2 linked regions of the Homo sapiens genome follow. The main gene of each other region encodes a partner of the protein of the gene in region 2 in a complex. Each region holds a gene or a part of one and is shown on either strand. Other genes may lie near its edges.

Region 1 (3,906 bases), on a different chromosome or scaffold from region 2:
AATAGAAATCTTGATCTGGCCAGGTGCAGTGGTTCATGCCTGTAATCCCAGCTCTTTGGGAGGCTGAGACAGGAGGATCGCTTGAGCCCAGGAGTTCAAAAATAAAAAAAATAGAAATCCTGATCTAAATGATGTAATCATTTTTGTTTTTCACATTCCCTGACCACATGACCTGAAATAGCACTACCCCTGACCAGTCACTCTATTTCTTTTTTTAATTTTACTTTATTTTTAGGACAGGGTCTCCTTCTGTCGCCCAGACTGGAGTGCAGTGGTCTGATCTCAGCTCACTGCAACCTCAGCCTCCTGGGCTCAAGTGATCCTCCCACTTGTAGCCTCTAGATTAGCTGAGACTTACAGGCACACACCACCATCCCTGGCATTTTTTGGTTTTGTTTGTTTTTTAGAATCAGGGTCTCACCATCTTGCCTAGACTGGTCTCAAACTTGTGGGCTCAAGCAATCCTCCTGCCTTGGCTTCCCAAAGTGCTGGGATTACAGGCATGAGCCACCAGTATTTCTAATATGTATGGGAAATATGCTGTCTTCCTATTCCTACTCCCCCACCCTCTAGCACTGAGTCCAGGTAGGTAGGCAGGGGGGTGTCTCCCTCCTTTACTTCGACACCCTAACTACCTTGGGGATCAGAAGTGACTCTCTGGAAGGATGCTGCTGCTTCTCACCAGAGGCTGACGATAACGAAGGCTATCCTCCATGGCCACCTCCTCCAGGCTGCCTTCCTGGAAATAGGAATCATAATAGTTGTTACTGGAAACAGGCAGAGGGTTGGGGGAGCCAAGGCAGTCCCACCCAGGACCAAGGTGGCTCCATTGCACACACTTCACCATGACTCCCCTGAAGGTCCAAACGTGCGGTTCTGCGGAAGTTGGGCTCCCCACTGGCCTCCCTCCTTCCTCAGAACCTCCAGGGGTGCTCCTCCTAGTGGCCACATCCAGCCTTTCTGACTGGACAACCTATCATTTAAAATTTTCAAGTAGTTCCGTAAACAGACACACGTTGCTGTATTTATTTATGTCAAGGGCTTGGTTTGTGATAAATCAGGCTCAAAAAGATTGTCTTAAAAGAGTGAACCTTGGCAATTTACCATAAAATAATTGCAATGCAGATTGTGCATGGAAATGATTGGAGATATTTTAAGGTCATAGTGTCTTCACAAATTGAGCTGAAAGGGAACTGTTAGGATGATCTTGCCTAACCCTCTCTTCTCACACAGGAAGAACTATTTTAAACTCGAGAGGTTAAGTGACCTGGCCAAAGTCACACAGCCACCACTAGTTAACTCGTATACATTGATTCTCCTGTGGGGCTGGGCAGATGAGGAATCTTTTGTTCTCTTCCCTGTTTGCAGAGATTTTTTTTGAGGTTACTTTCCGAGTTCTGGCAAGTACCCCTGCTTCTGGTAGCTTTGTGTCTCGATTCAATCTCATTCTTTTTATTTTATTTTATTTTTGAGACAGGGTCTCACTTTGTCACCCAAGCTGGAGTGCAGTGGTGTAATCTTGGCTCACTGTAGCCTCCACCTCTTGGGTTCAAGCGATCCTCCTGCCTCAGCCCCCCAAGTAGCTGGGATTACAGACGTCTGCCACCACGCCAGGCTAATTTATGGTTTTTTGTATGTGTTTTTTGTGTTTTTGTAGAGACAGTGTTTCCCCATGTTGCCCAGGCTGGTCTCCAACTCCTGAGCTCAAGTGATCTGCCCGCCTCAGCCTTTCAAAGTGCTAGGATTACAGGTGTGAGCCACCGTGCCCGGACTTAATCCCATTCTTTAACTTGTTTTGTTTTGTCCTCTCCAGGAGGCTCCCAGCCCTTTCGGATTGGTTGAGAAAAGTGGCCTGGCTGGTCTGGGGCCAGCGGCACCCACCCTCCCCTCAATTGCCCAACTCCCCCCCCCCACCGAACTGCCCAACTCCCCCTCCCCAACTGCCCAACTCCCCCACCCCCACAATCCCCTCCCGCCACAACTGAGGGAGGCGGTGCTGAAAAACAGCTGACTCCAGCAATGCTGCTCACGTGACCACTGCAGCTGCAGCTCCCGTTCCACTCCTTGTCCTGGGCTAGGTGGGCACTACCAGGGGCTCCTTTGGTAAGGAGTACCGGGTAGGCACCCGGTCCTGCCAATCCACCACTGGAACAGCTGGGGGGACAGCAGACAGGCACGGTCGGACAGACTTGACAGATCAGGCATCAGGCCCTCTGCGCTGGTCCCGGGCTCTTTAAGCAGGAACGTGAATGGCCTCAAGATGTCTCACATGGTCCCACTAGCCCTCCTCCTCCCTTTGTTCCCTACCTCCAGGAGGGCTGCTCTGCCCTTCCTTCCTCTGTTCTTTGGCCTTATGTTCCCCGCCACCACAGACCTTCCCCCGCCCCACCCCTCTGCAGACTTAGCCGTGCATTGCAGGCATGGAGGATTAATCAGTGACAGGAAGCTGCGTCTCTCGGAGCGGTGACCAGCTGTGGTCAGGAGAGCCTCAGCAGGGCCAGCCCCAGGAGTCTTTCCCGATTCTTGCTCACTGCTCACCCACCTGCTGCTGCCATGAGGCACCTTGGGGCCTTCCTCTTCCTTCTGGGGGTCCTGGGGGCCCTCACTGAGATGTGTGGTGAGTAACTCGCCTCTATCCTGTGCCTCTTTCCTCCTGGGTCCTTAGTGGGGTGGCTAGGGCATAGGATGAGGGAACTTACCTGCCCTTCTAAGCTCCCATAGCAGTTTGGGCTTAGCTGGACCTCAGCATTTAACACATCCTATTGTGATTGATTATATGTTTGACTCCTCACCAGACAAGATCTCCGTTAATTCAGTCATTCGTTCACACATTCATTCAGCGCATACTGAGCCTTTTCTGTGTCAGGCCCAGTGTTAGCCTTTGGGGAACGTGCAAAGCATGAGACAAGTCTAATCCCTGCCATCCTAGAGCTTATGTTCTAGGGAAGGGGGACAGACAAAAGAAATGGTTAGGTGCTCCCACCTGAAATCTCAGCATTTTGGAAGGCTGAGGCGGGAGGGGAGGATCGCTTGAGCTCAACAGTTCAAGGTCAGCCTGGGCAACATAGGGAGACCCCATCTCTACAAAAAATAAAAAAAATTAAAAAATAGCTGGGCATGGGGAAGACTTTCTGAAGACCAAGAGGACACATGGGAGCTGAAACTCGAAGGAAGAAAAGGAGCTGGCAGGAAAGGAGTGGGGGACACACATTCTAGGCAGCAGGAAGTGAGCCTTCGGAGGTCCTGCCTGCTCCAGCTCTGTGCCCCAAGGGGTCTCTTGGAGCACAGTCTCCTGGGACCTGTCTATGAGTCTGAGCTTAGAGGCTCAGGGCTGCTCCTTCAGACAGGAGGCAGAAGGCAGGCTTTGGGAACTTTGGGCCGCCCACGCGCCTTTTCTCCTCCTCTGCACCTAGGATTACGTTGAGCAATACACTTTCACCCCCATGGTCTCTTGAGACCCTGGGGAAACCCTGAGAGGTGGGTGCAGTCATGTCCAGGTGTCAAGTGAAGAAGTCGAGGGTTGGAGGGGCTGAGTGACCCACTCAGGGTGCTCCACCTTTTCCAGAGCTTTGCTGAACTTAGTTTTTAGAACTTGAAGCCTCGTTTGTTTTCGTTTTGTTTTTTGTTGAGAGAGGTTCTCCCTCTGTTGCCCAGGCTGGAGTGCAGTGGCACGATCTTGGCTCACTGCAGCCTCTGCCTTGTGGGTTCAAGTGATTCCCCCACCTCAGCCTCCCAAGTAGCTGGAGACTGCATGTGCATACTACCATGCTTGGCTAATTTTTGTATTTTTTTGTAGAGACAGGGTTTCGCCATGTTGCCCAGGCTGGTCTCGAACTCCTGGGCTCAAGTGAAACTCTTGCGTCGGCCTCCCAAATTGCTGAGATTACAGGCGTGAGCCACCGTGCC
Region 2 (3,906 bases):
CAGACCTATCACTCTCCCCATCCTAAATGTGTCAGCTCCTCACCAGAGCCCCAGGCCCCAGGCCCCAAGGTCCATTAGGACACCAGAGACTTGCCTTTCCCTCTCTCCTCCCTACACCCTGTGTTTTCCCCTCAATTTTCAGATCTCAGCTGATTTCCTGGGAGGGTTCTCATGTCCCTCTTGGAGACCTAGGAAGCACTGCCTCCCATGTCTAACAACTGTCCTTAAAGCCCTGGTCATGCCTGTCCACCCACAGACTGGACATTCTGTGGAGGTCAGGGCTGTGACCTGGCCGCCTAAACCCAGGGCAGTGCCTGATTATAAGTGGACACAGGTCACATAAGGGTCCAAGCTGGGTCCAGAGAAGATCCCGGCTGTCCTAGATTCTGAGCAGGGAAGCTCAGCTGCTTGCCGACCTGGAGGGGCACGGAGGGGCCCGCAACCTGGGCCAAGGGACAGAGGAAGGGAGTGGCCTTTACGGCTTCCTCCTGGGTGCGGCCAGGGGAGGTGGCAAATCCGCCACCCTGGCTTAGCTTCACTCTGCCAAGGCCTTTAACCTCTTCCACCTTTACCCACCAGCCATGAGCCTCCAACCCCCCACTCCCCACTGCCAGCCCCTCCTCGGCCTTCAGGCCTAATTGCACCTACTTGCCACAGGGTCCCTGAGCTCTATGGATCCCAGAAGAGCTGTGGACAAACCGGTGCCTGCTTCCTTCCCCGCCCCCGGGAGATCTGGCAGCCTCCAGGTGTGGCTCTCCACCCAGGCGCAGACTTCCACAGCCCTGACACCTCTGACCTCCCTTCGCTGGACTGCGGGAGTGTGTATCCCTCTGCAAAGTGGACAGTAGAGCACAGCAGTCCCCGCCTCATAGGGTGTAAGCCTGACAGGAGTTACAGTGACCAGTGACTTTCTCTCCTGGCCTCAGTTTCCTCACCTGTAAACGGGGTATGCTGGGAATCCCTACCTCAACATCCTGAGAAAAAAGAGACTGTGTATAGAGTTTTGTCCTGTAATCCCAGCACTTTGGGAGGCTGAGGCGGACAGAACACTTGAGGTCAGGAGTTCGAGACCAGTCTGGCCAACATGGTGAAACCCCATCTCTACTAAAAATACAAAAATTAGCCGGGCATGGTGACGGTGCCTGTAGTCCCAAGCTACTCGGGAGGCTGAGGCATGAGAATTGCTTAAACCCGGGAGGCGGAGGGTGCAGTGAGCCAACATTGCACTGCACTCCAGCCAGGGCGACAGAGGGAGACTCAAAAAAAAAAAAACAAAAACTTTTGTACTTGGTTAACGTGAACGCTGCCTCCTTAAAAAAAAACAAACAAAAAAAAACCCAGGAACATTTAACGTGAATGTCAGGGACTTTGGGATGAGTCCAGGGACCTAGAAGTGCGGAATGCACAAAGGAGCTGGGAAAGTGTGTGAGCCTGAGCCCAGGGCTGCAAGTTGGGAGTGCCTGAGTGCACAGGGAGGCCACTCCAACCCTCCAGCTGCCTCTAGGGGTATCAGAGAGGGAGCCCGTCCCCACTGGCCACCAATACCTCTTAGGCCAGGGCGAACACGTCCACGGGGGTATATTCAACTTGTGACCCCAGTCTCTGCGAGAGCCTGCAGTAGCATGGGGGGGAGAGACCTCGCGTTCTCTAAGGATGGAGGACAAAGGAGGAGAGACTGGGAGGGCAGGGACGGTTGCGGAACGGTCACAAGGCCTGGGCGCGAGGGTTTGGAAGGCAAAGGTGCGAGAGGCACCAGGTGACCCGTCCTGCGTGATTAGCGGTCGGACAATCTGAGCCTGCTAAGAGCTTTCCTGACCACGCTGGTATGAAGGGCGGCTTGGAGGTGACAATGGGGGACGACAGGGCACAGCAGGTGTGGAGACGGTGTGCAGGGCCGGAGCAAAACCGTTAAAGGCAGGTGGAGACACCCTCCTCCCCTCCCCCAGCATGGGGTCTTCCTAGCACCAGTGCGCGCCTTCCCACAAGCGATGAAGTCCAAGTCCACGTGCTGGGGGAGTGTCATGAACTGACGTGCGGTGCAGCCAGTGACTAGGCGTTGTCGGTGCGCGGCGGCGGGGCGAAGCCTCGCGAGGGGTGGGAGCCCGCGCTGCGGGGCGTCACTCACCTGCGGCCTGGGCAGAGGTCGGGGTGGAAAGCGGGCTCGCGGCGGCCTCCAGGCCTAGTCCGAGGCCGAGCAGCAGCAGCAGCGCCAGGCCCAGAGCCCCTGTTCGCCACGCTCCAACCTGCGCCATCCAACCGCCGCTCATGCTGTCCCCACAGCGGCGCCGGCCACGCGCTGTCCAGACCGCTCTCTTATCCCTGCGCACGCGCACGCGCGGGGTTGGGGCGGGGCCCAAGCCCCTGAGTTCTGCGGCGCCCGCGGCTACGCGTACCGTAAATGTCAGAATAGCAGGGAAAAGAGAATTAGAGGCCCGTCCCCACTTTCCCCAGTGACCAGATCAGTTGAAAGGTATGGAGCCCGCTTGAAGTTAGAAACTTCTGGGGATGGGAAGGAATTTGTTGGTGTTCATTTGCATTATTTCCCGTTCCAAATGAGGACTGCTGCAAATGTTACTGCCTCGTGATCTTCTTTAATATGGCAGCCACGCCCCTCAGGCACTCCGCATTTCCTCCCTCATCCCACTGCTTTTGTGGCGCCGACAGGTAATTTATTTTATTTACTTATTCTGGTTTGTTGTCCGAGTCCCCATAGAATGCTAGCTACTGGAGGGCAGGGATCTTCTGTTGCTCACTGCTTTATTCTCAGGATCTGACACATAGTGCTTGACTCATAGTAGGCTCTTAGTAAACATTTGGTGAGTAAATGAATAAATGAAACGTCCATTCTCGGAGTCGGGTTGCTTGGGGGGGAAAAAGGAAAGGAAATCAATTAATTAATTAAATTTAATAATAAAGGCCGGGCGCGGTGGGTCACGTGTGTGATCCCAGCATTTTGGGAAGCAGAGGCGGGCAGATCGCTTGAGCCCAGGAGTTCGAGATCAGCCTGGGCAACACAGCAAGTCCCCGCCCGCCTCAAGAAAAAAGAAAATTAGCTGGGCATGGTGGCTCTAATTTGTAGTCCCAGCTACTCAGGAGGCTGAGGTGGGAGAATCACTTGGGGCTGCACTCCAGCGTGGGTGACAGTGAGACCCCATTTGTTAGAAAAGTTGGCCGGCGCGCTGGCTCACGCCTGTTAACCCCAGCACTTTGGGAGGCCGAGGCAGGCGGATCACGAGGTCAGGAGTTCTAAACCAGCCTGGCCAACATAGTAAAACTCCCGTCTCTACCAAAAATACAAAAATTAGCCGGGTGTGGTAACATGCTCCTGTAGTCCCAGCTACTAGGGAGGCTGAGATGGGAGAATCGCTTGAACCCGGGAGGCGGAGGTTGCAGTGCGCCGAGACCACATCATTGAACTCCAGCCTGGGTGACAGAGTGAGACTCTGTCTCAAAAAAAAAAAAAAGTTGTGGTCATAAAACTTGGTTCAGATGCCGTCAGCGGCATGCCTTGCCTAGGGTCTTGCCCTCCTTGTGGCCTCTGCACACCCTGCCTAGTCTTTCCTTCCCTCCTGACCTTTCTGAATCTGATTCATCCTTTTGCCCCAAGCAGAATCCCACCTTCTCCAGGAAGGTGTTAGCCTTTGTAGGACCCACTCTGGGACACTGGTACCTGCTGCCTGTAGCCGTGGCCTTTCCCCTTCCAGAGGGCAGGGCGGTCTCAGCACCCTCTTGGTCCACAGCTGATCTTTTTTAGCTGCTGAAGGGTCTGGGGCTGTGCCCTGGGGAAGCCATGACACTCCCCTGCGTAGGGTCACTGGGTGGCTCCTGCAGCCAGACTTGGACACCCTCCCTTTGCAGATTTCTGTCTCCTCCCCAGGAACCAGCTGCCTTCCTTCTGGGGCGAAT

What was found.
Region 1: the proteins of CD320 (region 2) and TCN2 are in contact, whole or in part, in a crystal structure (PDB 7QBF), measured with the Homo sapiens proteins. Residues at the interface, in NP_057663.1 of Homo sapiens: Thr57, Lys58, Leu66, Cys67, Val68, Pro69, Trp72, Asp75, Arg76, Asp77, Leu78, Asp79, Leu133, Glu136, Cys145, Ile146, Pro147, Thr149, Trp150, Asp153, Gly154, His155, Pro156, Asp157, Cys158, Pro159; in NP_000346.2 of Homo sapiens: Asp70, Leu71, His74, Lys77, Leu78, Gln81, Gln82, Glu91, Asp92, Arg120, Gly121, His122, Lys123, Asp125, Arg126, Val128, Ser129, Lys132, Trp133, Glu136, Arg140, Lys169, Arg170, His172.

Annotation. Positions count from the first base shown.
Region 1 is NC_000022.11:30,604,779-30,608,684, forward strand, and holds the start of TCN2 (transcobalamin-2 isoform 1 precursor), read left to right. Parts: upstream 1-2,395; 5' UTR 2,396-2,553; coding exon 2,554-2,617; intron 2,618-3,906. UniProt on the Homo sapiens protein: Primary vitamin B12-binding and transport protein. Delivers cobalamin to cells.
Region 2 is NC_000019.10:8,306,024-8,309,929, forward strand, and holds the start of CD320 (CD320 antigen isoform 1 precursor), read right to left. Parts: upstream 2,336-3,906; 5' UTR 2,268-2,335; coding exon 2,126-2,267; intron 1-2,125. UniProt on the Homo sapiens protein: Receptor for transcobalamin saturated with cobalamin (TCbl). Plays an important role in cobalamin uptake. Plasma membrane protein that is expressed on follicular dendritic cells (FDC) and mediates interaction with germinal center B cells.